Regions from separate parts of the Homo sapiens genome. Here region 1 is linked to region 2. The links come from fine-mapping of genetic effects on gene expression. Tissue or cell type: whole blood. Region 2 holds a variant in brackets; the other region holds the start of a gene. All regions are shown on one strand. Distances are from middle to middle. Region 1 holds the start of BIN1 (bridging integrator 1). Region 2 overlaps BIN1 (bridging integrator 1).

Region 1 (15,963 bases), 29 kb after region 2:
ACAGTCACACAGCTTGTAAGGGACCAGCTGGGCTGGACGCTGAGTCCAGGGACAAGGACCTGGTCAGATGCCAGTGAGAAGGGAGCCCCGATGTGGTGATCTTGAAGAGGGCGCAGAGAGTTCAAGCCTCAGCTTCTCCAAGAATCCTTGCGATCCATAGATCTTCCTGGCCTTCACAACTTCATGAAATATGGAGGGAATCTACCACCCAGGCACCCCTTCTCTTCAGAGAGCTGGCATCCTCAATGTCCTCACACCTCTCTCCACACCTTGGACCATGCCTGCACCTCCTGGAATGCCTTCTCCTTCCCCATGCCCCATGCAGCCTCCCAAGTAGGCTGTGCCTGGACAAGTAGCCTGTGCCTGGCTTGGTCCCTGCATGAGCCAGAAGGCTGTACTCAGGCCATCCAGGGCCCCTGGGGGATTGGGGAAGTCTGGAAGCCATGCTTCCAACCTCCCATGCCCACACGCCTTTACCGAACACCCAAGAACCCACACACACCTGGGCCCACCCACAGAAGATGCCCAGCTCAGAAGCCTTCCCTGCAGGGTGAGATGAACCATCTACATAAGTAACTCGGGTCCAGGGGAAGCTGAGACTGGAGAGATACAGGAAGAGCCTGAACAGGTTCAGAGGGAAGAGGCCCAGAGCAGGGAGGTACAGACAGAGACAGAGAAAAAGACAAGACAGTAGCCGGCAGGGAAGAACCTCAGACATTCAAGGACAGAAGGACAGAGATGGGCCCCAAGATGGACAGAGATGGGAATGTGGGTAGAGGGGGGCATCTTTGTGCTAGGGCCTGGGAAGGGGGCGGGACCCCTGCAAAGTCAGTGGCCAAGGTGAGGAGACCAGGGCCTCTGGGTGGGCTCCCAGTGCCATCACTGAGGGCCTGGGTGACTTGGGCAGGTGGCTGGGCCTGCCTATGCCCCCATTGTCCTTTCTATTACAGGGACCATGCACCCACTCTCAGGTGTAGCATTGCTGCTTCTGAGGTTGCTGCAAATATAACGCTTGGTGTACAGGCCTGGCTCCTCCGGAGGAGGCTAAGGTGGCTACTGCGTGAGGAGACCTTGACCACGCAGCTGAGCATAGTGCAATTCATGGCCATGCATCAAGGCTCTAGGAATCGCCACCACTGCACCTTCCTTTAGCGAGCCTCTTCTCGGCATGTCAGCGCTGTGCTGGGCACTGACAACCCTGGGCCCTCCCTCTGCCCAGCTGGCCCTCCCCACTATCCAGCCTGCACCCCTCCAGCATGCTCAGGACCTGCCGGGAGGGAGGGACAGCATGCACACTCCCACCCTGCCAGAGCCTTCCTCCTGTGCTCACTGTCAGCCCAGCGTGGTCAGAGAAAGGCCCAGCTCCGTCAGGCCGGCTCCATGAGGACTCCCAAGCCGTGGGCCTTCAGGGGCCAGCAGGCCAGATCCCCACCCCCTCAGCTGTCCTTCTCCCCAGGCGCCCCATCCCGCGAGGGGCCCAGCCTGCCAACCTCTAATCCTCCCCGTCATCTGACCCAGGCTCCACCCTACACTGGCTTTGCCTAGCCACTCTTCTGAGGCCCAAAAATGGACACAATCATTTATAGAGGGTTCGACAAGCCAAACGCAATGGGAAGATGACCTCACGGCGCCCACAGGCTCAAGCTCCCAGCACACACAGTGCACCCCACGCATTCCGGGGGCAGTGGCCAGGGGGCCAGGAGCAATGGTGCCATGCTGGAGGCCCTGGCAACCCTTCCAATTTATTCTCATACCCTCCTCACACCAAGGCCACAGGCCATGGGACCTTCAAGAAAAAGCTCCAGACAGGCCAGACACATGCACCCTGCCTGAGACAGCATCGGGGACTCAGCCCAGGAGGCACTGGGCCTGTGTCCAGGCAGGATTTGATGAATGAGTGATGGCAGAGAACAAACAACACAAATCAATCCACCATCAGCCTGCGTCAGGCCCAAATCCCTTGTTCAAAAACATTCACTAAGCACCGACTGGGGCCAGGTAACATCCTCAATGCACACACCTGGATGTGCCCTGCCGTGCCCTCAGGGATCAGCCAGACCAGTGGTGGAGGCAGAAGGGTCAACAGGTAACAACAGTCAAAAAAGAGCTGGCTTGGGGACCCTACAAGAGTGCAGGCTGCCCTTGACCACACTGTCACCCTCACAGTCTGGATGTTTGTTTGGGCTGGAAGTGGATGTGGGAAGGCCGGGGGTGAAGGGTGGATGCAAGATACGGGCCCTTCTTCCTACGCCAGGACGCCAGGACTCTCCCAGCCTCCCAGCACAGCTCCTGCCATCCTTGCTCAGGAAACGCCTTCCTGTAGCCACAGGGAAACTGGAATTGCCCTATTACCCACTGATTTCACCAAGGCAAGGTAGGTATAGTGGTGGGGCTGCCTGTAAGAGACTAGGATTCCAGTTTCATTGACAGTGGGAGTTAGAGGCGGCACTGATCACCAACAGAAGACACTGAGGATGACCCTCCAATGATGGCACAGACTCTACAGGAAGGCACACAGCAGAGGCTGCTGTGGGTTGAGGCATGGGGCTTCCTGCGAGCAGGGCCTGCAACCCAAAGGGAGGGGAAGGCTACTTTCAGAGACCTGGCCTGGATGCCTGTCATGATGGTCATGCTGCCTTGGTTTCTGATGGGGGGAGGGTCCCTAACTAGTCTCCGGCAGGCAGAGAGCAGCTGGAACACTAAACAACTCCAGTCCCAGGAAGCCCGGCATGGGCAAGGTCAGCTGTTGGCCAAGACCAGCATGCCTAGCTGACCAACTGTCAGCCAACTGCCCGTGGCCACAGAACAGGGGCTCAAGAGAGAGGGATGGTGTCTCAGGAGCTCAGTGATACATCACCACCTCCTTGGAGGGGACACAGCCCTTGCCTACTGCCCCGAGAATGACATCAAAGATGCTGCTGCAGAGAAAAGACAACCAGGGCAAAGGAGACACACCAAGAGCCTTGGGGAGCCAGGAAGGGGTGGGACACCAGTGGGAAGGGGGCAGGGAACACAGCTCAGCTAACCTCCCTTCCCATTCATCTCCCTGGCCCTTTAGGGAAGGAAGCAGGCTCTGGCCCAGGGCTGCCTGCTCCAGGCACACAGATGGATTACCCAGTCATGGCAGCCCGGAGCAGGGGTGGCTGCATCTGTGCTGCCACCCCCCCACCCCACAACCTGAAGTCTTCCCAGCCCCCAGCCAGCTATTCCTGGGGCTTTAATCCCTCCTCCTCCTCCTCCTCCTCCTCCTCCTCCTCCTTCCCTGGGGTGGGGGGTTGGGGAGCTGGGTCTGGGCAAACCTGGACTTGGCTGAGGGCCCTTCCTTCAATGCACACCCACCCACCTCCTTAGCCAGGAAACACAGGGATGAGCAGTAGGACTCTGAGGGAGGTATGGGGAAGCTCTAGGCGCCCCCCTCTCCCCCATCCCCCAGCAATCACGTGGTTGCATCCTTAGGGAGCCCGCGGGTCTCAGAAGCAAAAGTCATTGTTTATAAACAGCCACCAGGCCTGGCAGGGGAAGGCCGGCCTGTCCCTGCGCCTCCACCCGGCGGCCGCGCAGCGGGTGGGAGAGGGGGCAGGCCTGGCCGCGGGGCACTGGGGGGCCACCCTGGCAGAAACACAGATTCTGCAATCTCAGATTTCAGAGTTGGAGTCGTCAGGGGAAGTGGCGTCAGCAGCTGGCGTGATCCAATTCAATAAACCAGAGGTGGCTTGGGATAGACAACTGACCGGGTGCAGACCCCCGCCCCTCAATCTCTGCATTTCCTGCACGCTCTGGGCACCCTGGGAGGCCCCGGCTCCATCCCCCATTCCAGCTCTCCGCGAGGAGGGGTCGGGTTTCCTGTGGCGCCTTCCACGCGCCTCCTCCAGGCCAGCTCCCCACCCGGCCGTGGGCTCCCAAAGCCAGTGCCGCCACCCGCTCCCCGGCCGCCGGAAACGCTAAGCCCCTGCTGGGGCGAGGGCACCTCCTTGCGGGGTGCGTAGCCCTGGGCTCCCGGTGGGGCCGGGCTGGGCGGGAGCTTCCAGGCCGCAGGCACCTCTCGGGAAAGGAAACCCAATCCCTCCTTCGGCCCACGGAGAACGAAAGTGGAGAAGCAGTGGGAAGGAAGGAACTGTGGGTGCCGGTTCGAGAAGCAGCCTTGGGAGTCCGGGGGAATAGTGTCCCCAGGGGCAGAGGGACATACTCCCTCTCGCCCCGAGCGCCGGCCCAGCCTAGGTTGCCTGCATGGGCCTGGAGAGCTGAGGGTCACCACCTGGCCTCCCAGCCTCCCGGCCCTTGGCCTCCAAAGCGGGGTAGCCTGGAGCGCGCGCCTGAGAAGAGCCTGGAGCAGGGCCGGCCACTGCTGTGCAGCCGAGCCACGAAGGTGCAAAGCGGGGCCCTGTCCTGCCCCGGCCGGGTGTGGGGAGACAGAGGACGCAAACCTAAGAGGGCACCCAGAGCGCCGGGGAACGCAGCCTGGGGACCTCGAAGCCCCTCGAAAGCGCTCCTCTAGAGGTGACAGCACCAGATCCTGGCGAAGGACCAGGCCCCGGGGTCGGAGGATAGGGGGACAGGTGGCCGGGGCTCCGCGGCGGCTGGGACTCCGCGGCTGCTGGGGCTCCGGCTCGCTCACCTTCTCCTGCGCGCGGGTGAGCTTCTTCTGCACGTTGCTGGCGATCTTTCCCGCCGTCACCCCTTTACTGCCCATCTCTGCCATCGCGGCGCAGGCCTCGCCCGGTGGCAGGGGCCGCTCTCGCGCGGGGAGATCTTGCGCGCCGCGCTCCCAGCCCCCAGCCCCGGCCGCGCGTCCAGACCGGCTGCCGCTCCACGCCGCGCACCCGACAGCGGAGCCAACTGACGGAGGCGGAGCGTGCGCCGGACGGGCGAGCGAGCCAGCGAGCTAGCCAGCGAGCGACGCGGGGACAGAGGGAGGGAGAGGGGAGGGGCCGGGCCTCAGGCCGCGGTCGGCGCCCCCCGCCCGCCCCCTCCGGACAATAAGCTGCCTTTTAAAGGGCCACTCCGGGCGCCGGCACCGCCAGGTCCGCGAGGAGGGAGGGGCGCGCGCGGCGCTGGGGCTGCGGCGAGCGGGACTCCCCTGACGCTCCAGCTGCACCGCCCCGGGGCGGGGACTAATCCGCCGGCCTGGCGTCTTGGTCTTCCCCGCAAGCAGTAATCTCCTGCAACCCAGGAAAGGAGACTAGGTGGAGGAGAGGAGTGCTTTCGAAATCAAAGAGAAAGTGCGGCGAAGGGGGCGCGGCCCTGAACAGAGGAGCCGCGGCTGCTGGGAGAACGCGCCCGGAGCCCCCTCCTTTTCCAGGGGCTCACCTCCCGCCCGGTGCCCGGTGCCCGGTGCCCGACGCTCCGCCTCCTCCCAGCCTTCGGCCCTCGGGTTTTCGCCCGGATACCCTAGGCGCCTCCGGGACATCTCCACATCTTTGCCTACGGCGCCTAGCCCAGTACCAACCGGTGCTTGGTCTTCCCGTTCGCTAAAAATTTATTATAATAACAACAACCTAGCATTACTGAGTGCTTACTGTGTACTAAGTGACTTGACAGGCATTATTTCATTCGGTCTCCGTGGCCCTAGAGGTAGGTGCTATTACTGTTCCTACTTTACAACCAACGCGCCGGGATCGAGGAACGAGATCTCTGCCTCTGTCTCCCAGGTGCTCCACCACCATACGCCGGGTTGTCTCCTACCCCCAGCAGGAAGGAATGATTAGTGATCATTATTCCTGGAGAAGATAAGGTTATTGCTAACCAGCTTTGCCAATAGACCAATGACACTTCTTTTAAGTTAATAAATACGTATTGAGTCTGCTGATACCCACCCCCATTCAGCCCTAAAACATGTCAGGGGCTACAGCACTTTGCTGCCCCTGGAAATTTCTAAAGAACTGTTGATTGAGTTGAGCAGAGAGATAGGTCCCGCTGAAGAGGCCTAGACGTGTCTGGTGCACACACAGGAGCCAGGGCTATGGCCTGCAGGACCCGCAGCGGTCAGAGGAGCAGAGCTGGCCAGGGACAGAGGTCCCTGAGAGGCTTCCTGGAGGAACAGGAAGGGCTCTTGCAGACCACAAACCAAGCAGTTTGTACAAATGGAGAAATCGAGTCCCAGGAATGAGAGGTTCAGCCTGGGTTCACACAGGCCATTCCCTCTTCCCTGGAAGGCCCTCCTGCTCTTTCTCCGGCTACTCGGGGTTCTTCCACCACCGCTCAGTGCTGCCCCATGGCCCAGTGTGTTCGTCTGTCCTCTTCCGGGCCTATTATCATGATGTCCCTCGGTATCCCCCAGGGGACTGGTTCCAGCACATCCGTGGATACCAAAATCCAGGGATGCTCAAGTCCCTCATATGAATTGACACAGTATCTGCATATAGCGTACACAAATCCTCCAAAATACTTTAAATTATCTCTAGATTCTTGTAATAGCTAATACAATTTAAATACTATGTAAATAGTTGTTAACGCTGTATTTTTTATTTATTTATTTATTTATTTTTAGACAGAGTCTCACTCTGTCGCCAGTCTGGGGTGCAGTGGCGCAATCTGGGCTCACTGCAACCTCTGCCTCCCGGGTTCAAGTGATTCTCCTGCCTCAGCCCCCCGAGCAGCTGGGACTACAGGCACGTGCCACCATGCCCAGCTAATTTTTGTATTTTTAGTAGAGACGGAGTTTCACCATGTTGGCCAAGATGGTCTCCATCTCCTGACCTCGTGATCCTCCCGCCTTGGCCTCCCAAAGTGCTGGGATTATAGGTGTGAGCCACCGTGCCCGGCCTTGTTTTTTATTTATATTATTTTATTGTTGTAGTCTTACTTTTTATTGTATTTTTCCAAATATTTTCAGTCCACAGTTGGTTGGATCCATGGATGCCCAACCCACAGATGCAGAGGGCTGACTGTATTCTTATTCTGCAGGAAGACAGACTGAGGCGCCGCTGATGTAGGTCACACAGACAGCAAATGATAAGCAGAGATTCTGCATCAAGCCTTCCTGCACCAATGCCCTCAAAAGCACCAAGCGCTGCATGAGTGAAAAGCATCTGTCAAAATTATTATAAACTCATGCCCGATTTGTGAGTCACAAAAGCAAAACCTACACAGTCTGGGCTTCTAAAGCAGCTTCCTCCTAAAAGCTCAACATGCTTTCAGCTCATGATCTCCTTCCTCCTCATTTTCTGTTGGTCGTTTTTCTAACCATTCTCTAAAAGTGATTTCTTCCAACACTCCTCTGAGGAAAGGAGGAAATGAGCAAAGTCAAATTGCATTACAGTCAGCCCCCAGGGAACAGTGGGAGATTCTGCTTCACTGGACTCTGGTGTTTCTAAATATCGCTTGACAGAAAAATTGGAAGCAACGGAAGTGTTCATTAGAGGGATGGGGTCAGCTGTGACAGCACAGCCACAGGAGGGGCCATTGGGAATCATTTAAAACAACCATTACCGAGACTACGTAGCAACAAGAAAATAATGCTTAGGGCATAATTATGAAGGAAAGGAAAAGATAGGAAATTGTACTTGCAACCATATAAAAATAAATTAAAATAAATTAAAAGCTCATGATCAATGTCTTGAAAGAACAATGCATAAAGGAAGCAGATGTGTTAGGGTCCAGGCATTAAGGCTGACTTCTTTCCCCCTTAATTTCCTTAATATTCTATAATATGACATAATGCCTTGCCTATAATCCCAGCACTTTGGGAGGCCAAGGCAGGCGGATCACTTGAGGTTGGGAGTTCGAGACCAGCCTAACCAACATGGAGAAACCCTGTCTCTACTAAAAATACAAAATTAGCCGGGCGTTGTGGTGCATGCCTGTAAGCCCAGCTACTCGGAAGACTGAGGCAGGAGAATCACTTGAACCTAGGAGGCAGAGGTTGCGGTGAGCCGAGATCGCACCATTGCACTCCAGCCTAGGCAACGAGAGCAAAACTCCATCTCAAAAAAAAAAAGAATCACAGCTCTGTTTTTTTAGAGGTGATTTTTTATCAGATCGCTAGATTAAAAAGATATTTCTAAACACAAAAGCACTGGAGAATATATTGAAATTTTAAAATGCTTGCTTTGAGGTACATAAAAATTAGAATTCTTAAACTTCAGAAAATACCATAAAAACATAGGATAAAAGTTTGGGAGGAAATGATCTAAAAATGTTAGTACAAGTTCAAGGGGTAGAATGTAGATTTTTACTTTTTTCTGTATAATTTTCTATAGTATGTTATTTTTTTTTACCATGACAGCCCGTTATTTTAATTACCAGGAAAAGAGTTATTCCCATTTTGAAAATAAGTTTGACATAAAAATTAAACTGTAAGAAACTAGGGAAAATTTTTTTGGCAATAAAATAGAACTCTTACAAATTCATAAGAAAAACATTAAAACCCCAATATATAGTAGACAATTTATAAAATTGGATATTCAAATAATTAATAAATAGGTTTTCGAAAGTCAGACTTACCAGACAAAAAGAAAGGTTCATTAAATCAATGAAATACCATTTCTGTTTTCATTTTCATCAAATCAACAAATTATTTTTTAAATTATGTTACTTAATAAAACCATAGAGACAGAAACTCACATTCTACTTCTGAGAGTGTAAACAGATAACAGAATTTCTAGAAAGCAATCTTGTAATAGAATAAGAATAACCAAAATATCCATATTCTTCCACCCTATAATTCCAAGTCTATGATTTAATTCAAAAATTTGGCAAAGCTTTCACCACACAGATGTTCATCACATTATTTATAATAATGCAAAACTGAACACATCTAAATATCACCACCTGAATGCCGAATGATTAACTAAACTATAGTATGGCCATGTATGAAATGTTTACCAAAAGAATATGTTCTTGAAGTTTCTCATGATAGGGAAATGTGATGTTAACAGGATAATACAGTTTAATGTAAACAGTATCGTGCCAGCCGCGATCCAAAACGTGATTGATATCTCCAGGTGGAGCAATTCGGGGTGGGGTTTTTTTCTCCTACTTCTTTTTCTTTTTATTTTCCAAACTTTGTACATGTACTCTTTTTGTCATCAGAAAGAAGTGCTATTAAAAATACAAATTGAAATGAGGACAATGTCCCCTGGGGCAATAGTTGGGAAACCTCAGTGTGGCAGAATAGAAAGATAAAGCACACAGGCAGAGGGAGTGTGCCGTGCATCCAAACGGTGAGGGCTGGAGAAGCCATGTTTCTGTGTTTGTTTGCTTGTTTGTTTTAAATAGACTTTATTTTTATTTTTTTTTTTTTGAGACGAAGTCTCGCTCTTGTACCCCAGGCTGGAGTGCAATGGCTCGATCTCAGCTCACTGCAACCTCTGCCTCTCGGGTTCAAGTGATTCTCCTGCCTCAGCCTCCCGAGTAGCTGGGATTACAGGCGCCCAACACCACACCCAGCTAATTTTTGTATTTTTAGTAGAGATGGGGTTTCACCGTGTTGGCCAGGCTTTTAGAACACTTTTAGGTTCAGAGCAAAAGTAAGCAGAAGGTACAGAGATTTCCCATAACCTTTGCCCCACACATGCACAACCCCCCTCACTATCAACATCCCCAGCACAGTGGGACATTTGTTACAACTGAGGCACCTCCGTTGTTGCATCATTATCCCCCATAGTTCATAGTTTATGTGAGAACTCACTCTTGGCTTGTACGTTCTATGGGTCTGGGCAAGTGTACAATGGTACGTGTCTACTGTTAGAGTATCATATAGAACAGTTTCGCTGCCCTAAGAATCCTCTGTGCTCTGCCTGTTCATCCCTCCCTCCACCCCCCAGCCCCTGGCAACCACTGATCTTTTTGCTGTCTCCATAGTTTAGCCTTTTCTAGAATAAATGCCGTATTATTGGAACCATACAGTTTGTAGCCTTTTCAGACTGGCTTCTTTCACTTAGCAATATGCATCTAAGTTTCCTCCATGTCTCTTCATGGCTTGATCATTTCCTCTGGCACTGAGTAATGTTCCCTTTTCTGGATGCACCACACTTTATTTACCCACTCACCTATTGCAGAACATCTTGGTTGCTTCTGAGTTCAGGCCATTATGAATAAAGCTGCTATAAACATCCATGTGCAGGTTTTTGTGTGGACATAAGCGTTTGACTCCTTTGGGTAAATATCAAGAAGCATGATGGCTGAATCGTATGGTAACAGTGTGTTTAGTTCTGTAAGGAACTGTCAAATTCTCTTTCAAAGTGGCTGGACCATTTTGCATTCTCACCAGCAATGAATGAGAGTACCTGTTGCTCCATCCAAATCCTTGCTAGCATTTGGTGTTCCGGACTTTGGCCATTCTAATAGGTATGTAATGATATCTCATTATCATTTGGGAAATGATTTTTTTAAAACCATGAAGAACAGAGGCAAGCAAAGGACAGTCCTCCTATCCCTTGGAGAGAAAAGATCACCTGCCCCATTTTCTTCTCCAACTCAAGAATTGATTAAGAGGCTCCGAGCTAGCAATATTACTATCCTCATCATCATTCTATCTTACAAAGCAATTTTTGTTTATACTATTTTGGCTATCATAATAATCCTGCATTTGATAGAACTTTTGCTCACCTTTTATAGATGGAAACTTGGAAAAAGTAGGCTTACCTGAAGGCACTTAGCTGGTGGGTCCTGTACTGAGATCAGTTAGTACTTGGTCATCTGTGGTGTCTGGAACAGACCAGCTTTGTACCTCCCTCCTGAGACAGCCAACTTCACCTCTTACAGAGACAGGGAGGGGGCTGTCTTGCTCAGGATGCAGAAGATTCTAAGGCAGCACCAGTTATTTCAGGGCAGCGTTAAGTGTGATGTGGTATTCAGGAAGGGCTCCCTGACTCAAATTGTCCTCCATCTTTCTCACATGTAAAATGCCACCACTCTCAAGTTCCATGATATTTTGGAAAGGGCAGATAGACCTGGGTTCAGAAATCAGCTCCTCGGCTCGGTGCAGTGGCTCATGCCTGTAATCCCAGCATTTTGGGAGGCTGAGGCAGGCAGATTGCTTGAGCTCATGAGTTCAAGACCAGTCTGGGCAACATGGTGAAATCCTGTCTCTACCAAAAAATTTAAAAAATTAGCTGAGCGTGGTGGTGTGCTCCTGTAGTCCCAGCTATTTGGGAGGCTGAGATGTGAGGATTACTTGAGCCCAAGAAGCTGCAGTGAGCCAAGATTGCACCACTGCACTCCAGCATGGGTGTCAGAGCCAGACCCTGTCTCGCAAAAAAAAGAAAAAAAGAAAAGAAAAGTAATCAGCTACTCCATTTACCACTTTTCCATCCTTGGATATGTTATTCAAGCTGTTCAAGCCTCATCTATAATGTGGGGGTAAATTAACCTCTAGGTTATTGTGGAAATAGTGAACACTATATTTACAGCCCCTGGAATATCAGAAGTGACTCTGTAGATGGTGGCTATCTATAGTGGGTAGCAGATGCTATAACTGTGGTGTGCCCTGCCCATTGTCCTGCTTTCCTTTGGAGCTCCTTCTTCGGTGGGTGTGCTTTGATGAGCCCTGTCTCTTACACTGTGATGTGCACATAGCCCAGGCTTGAGGATGAGCACATGAAGTTTGGGCTCTCTTGGGAAAAGCCCAAGAAGAGCTTTCCTAGGATGCTCTATACTTGTAGGACCCATAAGTTCCCTTTTCTTCTAGACTAGCAGAGTTGGGAGGATGTGAGTCTAGAGCTACCAGATGCCAGCTTGCCCACTACATGAAAGACCTGCCTAGAAGTTGAGGTCAAGACGAGTGAAGAGACGGAGAAACAGGGACAGAGAGAAATGGAATTAATGACATTTCTTAAGAACCTGGTCCCAGTGATGCCCAAATCCTGGCCACTCCCACCACGTACTATCAGCCATAGGAACCAATACATTTTTTTCTTGCTAAAGCCAATTTGAGGCCACTTGCAAGAAGTGTTATGACTAATATACCATTATCTTTTTGTTGTTGTTGTTTGGTTTGGTTTGGTTTTTTTGAGATGGAGTCTTACTCTGTCACCCAGGCTGCAGTGCAGTGGTGCTAACCCAGCTCACTGCAACCTCTGCCTCCCAAGTTCAACTGATTCTCCCACCTCAGCCTCCCAAGCAGCTGGGATTACAGGCTCCCACCGCCATGCCTGGCTAATTTTTGTATTTTAAGTAAAGATGGGGTTTCACCATGTTGACCAGGTTGTTCTCAAACTCCCGACCACAGATGATCTGCTCGCCTTGGCCTCCCAGAGTACTGGGATTATAGGCGTGAGCCGCCGCACCCAGCCAATATACCATTATCTTAATAAAGACCTTCAGAGAGCCAACTCTAATGCATTTGTTATGCTATAGGTATCATCAAGCTAGTCTCTCCTGAGTGCCTGCACCTGACCCATCAGTATTAATATGGAGTGTCCAAACTAGGACAATTTTGAGTGAAAGGGGAAAAAAATAATTACACCTAGGTAGCAGGTGTAAGCCAGAACTGTCCTGGGCAAATGGACGTATGAGTAGGTGGTTGAAGGGGTAGGAGTTCAGAATGAAGGTTGGCAAAGAGGCTAAGGACATTGTACACTGTGCTGGGGTTGGCACCAAACACTGAGGCTTGTGCAGACTCCCCAGCCTGTCCAGCTTTCCTTGAGGCGATCCTTGCAGAGACAAAAAGACAACTCCCCACAGAACCATCTGGAAGGCCCTGTCCCTGGGCTTCTAAGGGGCCCAGATGTTTAGATCCAATTTCAGCAGACCGTGTAGGAGAGACCTGTGGAGTGAGCCAGTGAGTGGATCCCCCAACTAATTCCAGGATATTAGCAAGGCCTCCAGGAATGAGTTACTTCCTTTTGCCACCAGCAAGTGAAGTCTCCAAAAGCAAAACCTTTTTCAAGATGATCAGCTTAGCCAGGCACGGTGGCTTACACCTGTAATCCCCAGCATTCTGGGAGGCTGAGGAGGGTGGATCACCTGACATCAGGAGTTCAAGACCAGCCTGGCCAACATGGTGAAACCTGGTCTCTACTAAAAATACAAAAATTAGCTGGGTGTGGTGGTGTGCACCTGTAATCCTAGCTACTTGGGTGGCTGAGGCAGGAGAATCGCTTAAACCCCGAAGGCAGAGGTTGTAGTGAGCTGAGATCGCACCACTACATTCCAGCCTGGGAGACAGAGCAAGACTCCATCTCAGAAAAAAAAAAAAGAAAAAAGGAAAAAATCAGCTTGCTTGTGTTTGTCCTGCATGTCTTTAAACCTTGACCCCTGCGTGGTCTATGCTGTGGCTAAAAAGTAGTAGACTGAGATGCTGACGACGACACACAGGCTTTAGGCCAAAGGCCCTGGCTCCATCGGTATGAGTACTGTGGCCCTGGGCCAGTCACTGCCTGCTTCCTTTAAGTGGGGCCTTCATACTCACCAGGAAAGGCTGCCGATGAGGATTAGGGGTACCAGGCAGTCCCTGGTAGGGCTGATTGAGCTTGGTAAAGCATAGTTGCTATTATGACATAGCGGCTGTTAGTCCCTTAGTTAATCTAGTATGTGCCCGCATTGCTGGTGAGACACAGGGGGCAGACCTCTGTTGGCTCTCCAGGTGGTCAAATAAAGGTGCAGAAAAGCAAACAGCCCTTTGCCCAGCACTCCTTCTTTAATAAATCACTGCTTAGTTCCTGTAGAAGATTCCAGACTTTGGAAATACTCACTGGAAATTTACCCTAATTATCTATTTAAAAATGGCTTTCTAAACAGAGTGCTGAGATAAGATGGCCCATCTCCGTGTTTAAGCATTTCTAAAGTCTCGTTTGTTTATCAACACGCCCACAAGCTATGAAGCTACTAAGGTGACTGACCGGTTCCTTGAAACTGGGCTTCATTTACAAGTTACTAGGTGCACTTTAGGAGGGCAATTTCAGGTGTTTAACCAAAACCTGACAAACATATGCATCTGAGATTCTGTCCTTAGAATATAGTCACTAGCGCAGTCATGTCCTCACAATGAGTGAAATAGTGAAAAGTTGGACACAATCTAAATGTCCAGGCGTGGATTGTTAAATTTGCTTATTTTAAAATTTGGTTTATCCATACAGTTGATCTTTGAACAACATGAGTTTGACCTGCATGGATCCACATATACGTGAATTTCCTTCCGCCTCTACCACTCCTGAGACAGCGAGACAAACCTCTCCTCTTCCTCTTCCTCTTCCTCCTCAGCCTACTCAGTGTGAAGACCTTTATGATGATCCATGTCCACTGAATGAATAGTAAGTATATGTTCTGTTCCTTACAATTTTCTTATAACATTCTCTTTCCTCTAGCTGACTCTAGTGTAAGAATACAGTATATAATACATATACAGAATGTGTATTAATCAACTGTTTATGTTATCAGCAAGGCTTCTGATGAACAGTAGGCTATTAATAGTTAAGTTTTGTGGGGGCCAAAAGTCATGCACAGATTTTCGGCTGTGTGAGGGGTCAGTGCCCCCAATCGCCGCACTGACCAAAGGTCAATTGTATTTTGAATATTAAGCTACCGTTAAAAATTGATAAATGAGACTTCAAATTTTTTTTTCTTTTTCTTTTTTTTTTTTTTGAGACGGAGTCTCGCTCTGTCACCCAGGCTGGAGTGCAGTGGCGCGATCTTGGCTCACTGCAAGCTCCGCCTCCCAGGTTCACGCCATTTTCCTGCCTCAGCCTCCCGAGTAGCTGGGACTACAGGCGCCCGCCACCACGCCCAGCTAATTTTTTGTATTTTTAGTAGAGATGGGGTTTTTTAGTAGAGACGGGGTTTCACTGTGTTAGCCAGGATGGTCTCGATCTCCTGACCTCGTGATCCGCCCGCCTCGCCCTCTCAAAGTGCTGGGATTACATGCGTGAGCCACCGCGCCCGGCCGAGACTTCAAAATTTTTAAAGCCTGCTCTTCCAAAGACACCACTAAGAAAATGAAGAGGTAATCCACTCAGATAAAACTTTTCATGGTACAGATATCTAATGAAGGACTTGTATCCAAGAACAAATTAAGAATTGTCATAACTCAATAAGGAAAGCAATCTTTTTTTTTTAAGGCAAATGATTTGAAAAGACCCTTCACTACAGCAGATATACAAATGGCAGTAAGCATGGGAGAAAATGAGTCTTCATGAGTCTTTAGGGAAATACAAATTGAAACCACAATGAGTTAACGCCATACACTCACAAAAATGGTTATATTTAAAAGGCGACAACACCCAACGCTGGTGGGAGTGGGAGCAAATGGAGCTCTCCCCAAAGCCACTGTCCCTTATAGCAGGGTCCTCCTTCAGTCATGATGAATTTCTGCTTTTCTTTTTTCCTCCTGCACCATCTCCTACCCCAGTTCATTGTACATATCTGAAATCTGATCATGGGCCCAGCTGCTGTTGTATCCCATGAGAGTCCCTGTGACCACAAATAAATACCTGGATGGAGAGGGGCTCCCCAACTCCAGAGCCAACATGGCCACCTCAGCCTTGCCCAGACAGCCCCCCAACACCCTACGGGGCTTTGCATGTATCCTTCCTAAAGACATGGGCATACATATCTGACTTCCCCAACTCTCCTCCCCGATTTCCTCACCAGGCAACTTGGCAACCTGCCTCACCTTTACAGACACGCGCAGTTGTCACCTCCTCCAGGGAGATCTCTTTGACTCATCTCAGGTGGGGCTAAATGGCCCTCGTCTATCCTCCCCCGGGGTCCTGCGCTTGCCTTTCTCACAGACCCAGCACCCCTCCAAAACAGTCGTTCTGCAATAGTGGGGGAAAGGTGCCCTGGGACCCAATTCTTAACTCTGGCCATGAACGAGGGTACATCTACTGGGATTCCCTTTGCCTGGTGAGGATTGGAGTTGGGGGAGGAGGTTATGAAATATCCTCCTGCTCAGAGGCCACATTGAGAAGTGACAACTCCTTGTACAGAATGTGGGCTGTCTTTCAGTAGAAGTGATGCTCAGAACCGCGGCCTCCAACTGTGGCTCCTGGGGGCAGGGCTGGGCCTGCTTAGCTCTGACCCCCA
Region 2 (8,000 bases):
CCAGGAGAGGGGAAAGCTCTAGGAAAGGAGGGCGCTGGCCAGGACCCTGAGAACATATGCTGACCATCACGCTCTCCCAGACTTCCCTCTCTGGGCCCTGCTCCTCCAATCCCAGAGCTCCACATGACGGAGAGAGAGGTGGGAGCAGGGAGACAAAATACAGAGGCAAGGAGCGGTGGTGGGGCACGGTAGGAAAGAGCAGGAGAAGAAAAAGACAAAGAGCTGGGGCACAGAAAAGGGATGAGGAGTGCCAGATGGGTTTGCAGGAGAGCAGAGGGGAAGACCAGGGTGGCGGCGGGACACACCCGTCTGCAGCCAAAGAGGCACCTCCATCAGGGCGGCAGAAAGGCCAACACTGATGTCTCAGCAGAGGCCTCTCCCAGGCAGTGGGCAAGACCTCACAAGAATGAGAAGGAAACGGGGGTAGGGGATGGGAGTGGAAAGCAAAGGGAGAAAAAGGTGGGCCCAGGAGCGGTGGGGAGCCCCAGGAGCAAAGGGCCAGCCCAGCATCTGCTGAGGCCAGTAGGTCTGCAGACATCCCTCCCTTCCAAGACCCGGAGCCAGCCCATGCTGCCAGGAACATCAGCTTTGGGGCCCAGGGCCCAGGCCACGGTCCTGGACCAACGGATGCCTGGTACCAGGACACAGCCAGGACCCTTCCCACCCTGCCGGCCCTTGCAGGTCCTGTGCTGCCCTGCTGCACTTCCCCCCCCAGCCAGGCCCAGAAGCCTTGGCAAGGCCAGCTGCTCTTGGCCATCTCTCACCAAGCACTTGCTCTGTGCCTGGCCTTGGGCACCTTGGCCGGTACAGCAGAGAGGAATCAGATGTGGGTCTCTGTCCTGACATGGGGGAACACTTAAGGCTGTGGGACCCTGGGGGTAGAGATCTCTTCTAGCCTGGGCAGTCAGTGAGACTTCCTGGAGTGGGTGGCAGCTCAGACAGAGGGGAGAGGTTGCAACAAAGGTAAGGAGACCAGAAAGATGGAGCATCTTACTGGGGAGTTTTGAATTGCTCAAGGTGACTAGAGGTCACAGAGGATGGAGTGGGAAAGTGAGAGTGGCAGCAGGGGGCAGGTGGGCACCGGGAGGCAGCCACCGATGATGTTGTGCTACAGCGGTCGGGACACAGCCCCTTGGGCAACTGCAGCTGGATGCCAAGGGCTGACACAGGGATGAGAGAAAAACCAAAACAAAACCCCCACATGAGCAAGAAAATGTACACTGCACAACTTGCAGGCTCCCCACTGCTGCCCCTCCCTGGCAGCCACATCCAGAAGGGACCCCCCAGAAAGTGGGCTGAGCTGGGGAGGTTCCTCACCCGGCTCTGCAAAGAGCTTGGGTAGGTGACTCAGCCCCTCTGCTCAGGCACCCACCCCACAGCCCCACCCCCTCCAAAGAGAGGAATAGACCACCACATAGAAAAGAACTCCCAGAAGTCTACCAGAGCCACCAGAGAGAGCCAGAAGCTCTCAGAAACAGGGCAGGGACTGCCCAGCTCCCAAGGCAAGAGCACCAGGAAGGATGCCCCTTCCACGCCCTGCCCTCCCTCTCCCCAGGAAGACAGACACACTCAGCCAGCAAAAGGTCCCCAGTCTTCCCCACCCACACTGGCCACCAGGGCTCCTGAGGTGTACAGAGACAGACACACACTCGACCCAGTTCCCAAACACTGCTGTGTGCTCTGCACAGACAGCTGGAGAACTGGGGAGATCTTCCAGCCTTGAGAACGAGACACCAGCCCAGGTGAGACTCCACGCAGCAGTGAGAAGACCCTTGGGAAAAGGGACAGCTACTCTCTGAGCCTCAATCTACAAAATGAAGTGAACACTGGCACCCTCCTCAAGGATTACAAAGATCATGTCTATAAAGTGCAGAGCAGTACCTGGCCCATGATATTCAAGAAATGGCAAATCCCTAAAAGGCCTTCAGAGCAGCCTTCACACAGGTGGGGGATGGGCCTGACTGACACCGCCAGCCCTCACACCGGGTCCAGGCTGACGGCATCCCAAGATGTGAGACAGAAGTCACAGACGCGCACACTCTACCTGCACATGGCAAACTCCTATGCATCCTTCAAAACCTCACTCAGGTGACATCACTGTGAACTGTCCCTGATCTCTCCTTTCCTCAAAACACTCTGTACCACTTAGAGCTTTCCTCACTGCTATGTGATGTGCCTGTGTGCCTCACACCCTCACCCTGAAGGAACAGCTTGAGGTCAGGGACACTGTTCCAGTCATCTCTGTGTCCCCAACACCCACACAGGGCTAAGCACAGGACAGACACACAAGATATTCTCAGCGGCTGCTGCTCATCTGAGCTGTGGGCTTTGAGGGCAGAGACATGACCCTAAACAAAACAACCCACCTCTCAGCCTCAGGCTCCTCCCAGACAAAATGGAAGGGTAATGTACAGAAAGCCCTCAGCCCTGAGGGGTGACAGCAAGCCTGAGGCTGAGCCAGTCTCCCCACTCTGCGAGACCTCAGGCTGCTGAAGCTCTCAGTGCTCCAGTGCCCCCGCCTTGGAAATGGGAGGAATAACAAGGCCACAGCATGGCCGAGGCCCAGGGAAGACCCATGGGCGAGGCTGGCCTTGGCCACATGCCATCCTCACTGCACCTACCCCCATTTCATCCATGAGGGAACGCAGGCAAGTGGCCTGGGGTCCCCATCCTCAAGGAGCTCCTGGTGTGGCTACCACAGGGAAAAACAATCTGGGCACCCCCTGCCCCAGAACAGGAGCTGGGACAAGGCCGTGAGCCCTGGGACACAGATCTCCCACCCCATCCGTTCCACACTTGGTTAGTGGGGCCTCCCCTGTGCCGAGCTCACAGGCAGACCACTGAGGGACACAGGGGACTCCAGGTGTCCAGGAGGGGCTGGCCCAGCAGCGACTAAGGAAAGCTGGGCAGGACAGTTGTGCTGGGTTTTGAAGGATGAGCAGGAGTTGGGTGAGGAGGAGGGTCTGGCGGCACAGGCCAGGATTTGCACTCTGTCCAGGGTTACTGGGTGAGGGCCCCTTAGACAATCAGTTCCACCTACACTCATCACACACTTATCACGCACACTCACTCTGTGATAAACAAAGGGGAGCCTTTGAAAACTTGGCGGCGGACGAGACACACAGAGGCCCAGGCGGCAGAGGCAGCCACAGAGCCAACAGTCCCAGGAGCTTTATCAGTG[CCA/C]CACCCAATCACCTCCTATCAGAGCTTCCTCTCACCATGTCCTCAACCCAAGGCCAGATGTGAGTGGAGCTGAAGTGCCTTGGAGGGGACACCCCAGGGCAGGGCAGGGAGGGGGGGCAGGTGGCAGGAATGACAAAGTGTGAACCCGTGGCCAGCTCCAGAACCTCCTCCTGCAATCATCCACAGGGTTCAGCCTCGCTGGGCCTCGGCTGTGGAAGGAAACCCTCCCAAGGCTCCTCCCTAGAAAGGCTGGGTGGTTCACTGAGTTGACGCCATGCCTCCGGCACCCGGGTCCACAGGGGCTCAGTGGGAGCATCCCGTGGGTGGGTGCCCCTCCCCAGCCCTCCGCCAAGGCCTTTGTCATGGCCCAGTGAGAGGGCAGAAGGCCCTGGCGTCAGCCGCTCCCTGTGGGTACAGGGAGTCCTGCCACCCTCCAACAGCCCCCGCATGGCAGGCAAGGCCCTGACCCACAGCGTGAGTCATGGGGCACAGGCAGTGCACGGCCACCGAACCCAGAAGGAGGAAGGGTGCCCAGGCCTGTCTTGTTTGAGCCAGGAGCAGCTCACCACGTACAGCACCCACCCACCATGCACGCACTTCAAGTCACCAGGGCCGCCTCCTCAGAAGGGAAGTGTCCTTATGTGACAGATGGCAGGTGAGCACAAACAAATCAGGACACAGCCTGACACCGTCCAGTCAGGAGGGGCCAGGAGCTCTAGCCGCCACAGTGAGGAGGGCCGGGTCTTCGGGCTCACCCGGCTGGGCCCCAGCAGCCCCTCCTGGGGTCTCTGATCCCTCCCTCGGCCCCAGAGACCAGTGGGCCTGCTGCACTTGCGGGACACACACCCACAGTCTGAATGGCATGGCCCAGGGCAGGGATAAGCACTTCCCAAGGCCATCAGAAGGACCAGCCCAGGGGCCCAGGAGGGAAGCCTAAGGAAGGAGGGGTGAGGGCCGCGTTCCCAGTCACTCTGGTCCTGGCCAGGGCCAGGCAGAAAGCTAGGGGCTCCTCCACCAGCCAGCGGCACCCCTCGTCCCTGCAGTGGCAGCAGAGTTCCCAACACCCCACCCCCACACACACATGGAAGGGGGACCTCATCCAGCAAATCTCCCTCCCAGGCACCCACCACCCAGCTGCTGAGACCCCAGAAAACGCATAAGGCCCTCACCTTCCGCATCATCTCCTCCCCACCTGCCTGCACAGGAAGGGCGGGCTGAGAAGTGAGCCCTGTCTCGCCCCTTCCTCCCAGCAGAGCCTGCGGTCGGGGGCCACGGAGGCAGGATGCACACCCTCGTGCCCCGGCGTTCTCACACCGAGGCTCCCCAGGCAGGCAGACACAGACAGAGGACAGGCAGGCGGGCAGGGGGAAGGCCACTGTCAGACACCCGGCCAGGCTTTCTCTGGGCCCAGTCCCGAGGGAGACACCCCAAGAGGCGAAAGGGAGGAGGGCCCCTAGAACAGGACAAAGGCGAGCCTTCTCCCCACCCCCGCCCCCCACCTCTGGGTCCAGGCTCGCTCACTGACTCCCGGGGGCTGTCCCTCTGTCAATCTTTCCTTGCCCCTCCTCCTCCGTCGTCTCCCACACACAGCTCGGGTCAGCCAAGCTGGGGAGCTGTGGATGATGACACAGGGCTGGCCTCGGGGATCTTTCCGCCCTCATGCTCCAGGGGCCCCTGCAGGGGAGACAGAGGGCAGGATGGCCAGCTGAAGGCCTCCGTGGTCACAAGCTCTGAGGCCTTGCAGGCACTCAGCTGGGGATACCAGGGACATCGCAGGACAAGTCTGCACCGAGACCAGGGTTGGCGTGGGCAGGCCATGGTGGGCGCCCAGGCAGGGGAAGGGGTACAAGGCCCTCTGCCTCCCCTCTCCTGCCCCAAGATGCTGCCTGCTGTCTGACACATCAGGCTGGGGTGGCAGTGGTGAAAGGGGTACAATGGGAGTCTTAAACCCCCAGGGGCAGAGGGAGCCAGTCTGAGGACAGTCCCGCAGATCCCATAGTCACCTAGTTCCCCAGCACACAACCCCTCCTCCAAGCCCATCTCTCAAATGCGAGCTGTCCCTGCAACCAGACACACAGGACCCCTCTCCCGGCTGCTGCTCACACCTCCCCATCCCCACTCCGACAGTGGAGCCACCTAAGCCTGCTCCCCACCTCTGGGTGGAGAGTCTCGGTGGCCTCCAACAATCTAGGTGCCATGCAGGAGGCCACAGCAGCCCTGACGAGAGAGCAGAGGGAGGAAAAGAGGTTCTAAGCCCACCACTCACCTCCACATTTCATGTGGCCCTCTCACCTCCTTATTTTCAAAGTATAAACCTCAAAGAAAGTGGAAAGGATACTACAGGGACTATCATCTACCCTTCACCCAGATTCACCAATCAACTGTTACCACTTGGCCACACTCATTTGCTTTTTTCTTTTTTTTTTTTTCTTTTTTTTTGCTTTTCTCTTTTCTTGCTATGTCGTCCAAGCTAGAGTACATGGCGCAATCATGGCTCACAGTAGCCTAGACTTTCTGAGCTTAAACGATCCGCCCACCTCAGCGTCCCGAGTAGCTGGGACTACAGGCCACTGCACCTAGCTAGTATTTTTACTTTTTGTAGAGACAGGGCCTCGCTATGTTGCCCAGTTTTGTCTGGAACTCCTAGCCTCAAGTGATCCTCCCACCTCAGCACCCTCAAGGTGCTGGGATTGCAGGTACAAGCCACCGTGCCCAGTCACTTTTCTCTATATATAAACCGTTCCTGCATTTGTATGTTTGCCCAGCCAACAGAAGGTAAGCAGCAGAAGGGTCACTGGGATGACCTTCGCTCCACAATACTTCACCCCTAAATACTCCAACAGATTTCCTAAGAACAAGAACATGCTCCAAAATGCCCATGATACCATAAGCACCCCCAATACATCCAAAATGTATTTTAAAATACCATCTACCACACGGTCCGCATTCAAATATCCTTGGGTGCCCCCCAAATGCCCTTTATGTCTGGGTCTAGGATCCAACTGTGGTTCACATATTGCTTCTGATTGTCGGGTCTCTTGTTCCTTTAGTCCAGAATATTCCCCGTATGCCTATTTATCAATGTTATCCATTTTTTTTCTTTCGTGATACTGGTATCTTTTTAAGAGTGCAAACCAATCACTTGGAGAATGCCCCACACTCTGGATCCATCTGATTGTTTCCTTGTGAGGAAGTTCAGGTTAAAGGCTGCTTTGGCAAGAGTCCTGCAGAGGGAGGCTGAGCCTTCCCACCGCACCACAGCTGTGTTAGGCTTGACCGCCGGGTCTGAGTCGTGTTTGCCAGATCTCTTGGAAAGGAAGGTCACTTTTCTCTTAGTCATCTGCAGGACAATCACGGTCACTGTGGCAAGGCAAAAAGTTGTTGAAATTTTTGCACAGTGCCTTTACTATCCATCATTCTTTGCTATTCAGTGTGAGGTCTGTGGGCAGCTGCATGACAGTCTTCCAAGAGCCTGGAGGAGAAAAAAAACTGCAGACCTGCTGAACCAGAGTGTTCCCTTTAACAAGTCCCCCTGGCGCACCGTATGCGCAGTGAAGTCTGAGAAGCACTGCAATAGCATCTTGGCTGGAACCCGCTGTTACCCAATCTCCTCCACGTGACCCGGCATTCCACAAACACGAGCCTCCCCTGGTCTTGCCTTTGCGAGGAGGGTGGTGAGGATATCGTGAGTCCTTCGTTTTGCGTTCGTGATTCATTTTGATGCTCAAACATCCCAAGTGCGACCAGTGGGAGGTTTCGGACACGTCCTCATTCATCTCCAGGCGCTTCCTTACTTTCTGGCACTAGCAGATTCTCCAGGCTCAGCCTGCACTGTCCCTGCCCCAGCCCTGGCATCAGCCATTTCTCCAAGGAACCCTGATTTCCTTCGGTGGAGAGGCATGCTCATTGCTCTTAGGCATTTCAGCGTTCCCTCATGCTCAGAGCCGCAGATTATTACCCCTGCTTTAGAGATAAGAAAGGAAAGGCTGCGGCACTGAAGGATTTGGCTCTGCAGCGAAGAAGCGACCGAGCTCAGATTCTGTGGCTTTGTGGTGGTGGTGAACAAGCATCATCACTCAGGTCTGTCTGCTTCAAGAAGTGAGAAAGGAGACAGACCCATGGCCTAGCAGCTGCCCTCTGAGCCCATTGCAGTGTTCCTTAGGAGGCCACACTGACTGTGGGCTGTGGCACCTGCCCCAGGCTGGTGACTGCACAAGGGGCAGCTTCCTGGTCTCATCCAGCCCAGGGAAACTCTCTTCCTCCTCAGAACCCAGTGAAGTCACACGTACAGAGGCGTCTTCAGAGCAGCAGTGCTTAACCCAGAAGCTAGCAGTCTCCTGGTGACGATTGAGGCCTTGTTCTCCCTCCATCCCCCGCCCCGCCCCACCCCAGAGCTGCTGCTTCACCCTCAGGTTGGGAGGGGAGGGCACCCAGACCTGCAGCCAAGGACAGAGGGGCTAGAATGAGGGTCCCAGACTCCTTGGGAAAGCTACGGGCAGCTGGGCCCCTTGCAGCAGCCCCAGCTGTGGCTGCAAAGGGGAGAAGTGGCCCAGGTTCCTGCTGGAGAGCAGAGCCCAGGGGCACCGGGAAGTGAGTCCCAGGAAGCAAGCCCAGAACACACAGCACACTTCTTAGCGGCTAGCCACCCTTCAGGCTATGCCTTCCAACTTCTCAAAGGCACAATGACTTTAAAGATAAGTGCATTCCATCTGGAGGCAAGAACGCTCCCCAGCCCTCAGGGCCCCACACAGCAGCACAAGCTCGGCCATGTACATGCAGCAAGCACCTCCAGTGTGAGATGACGCCCACACACGCTC

What was found.
Region 1: it holds the start of BIN1, and the variant in region 2 is fine-mapped to the expression of BIN1 in whole blood (TOPMed, PIP above 0.99).

The regions. Positions count from the first base shown.
Region 1 is chr2:127,102,245-127,118,207 of GRCh38, forward strand. It overlaps BIN1 (bridging integrator 1), which reads right to left and starts at 4,910. Exons shown (of 19, transcript NM_139343.3): 1 at 4,616-4,910. The coding sequence starts at 4,699. LOC105373605 (a long non-coding RNA gene) reads left to right here and starts at 4,901. Exons shown (of 4, transcript XR_923311.4): 1 at 4,901-5,571; 2 at 14,019-14,192. RefSeq lists an enhancer at 1,486-2,038 and silencers at 4,758-4,967, 4,849-5,143, 4,978-5,037.
Region 2 is chr2:127,077,480-127,085,479 of GRCh38, forward strand. All of the region lies in intron 1 of BIN1 (bridging integrator 1), which reads right to left. Among named protein-coding and RNA genes, the nearest start is that of BIN1, 26 kb to the right of the region's middle. RefSeq lists enhancers at 3,526-3,755, 4,076-4,205, 4,776-4,835, 4,876-5,075, 7,548-7,687. The variant CCA/C (reference allele first, on the strand shown) is at 3,182.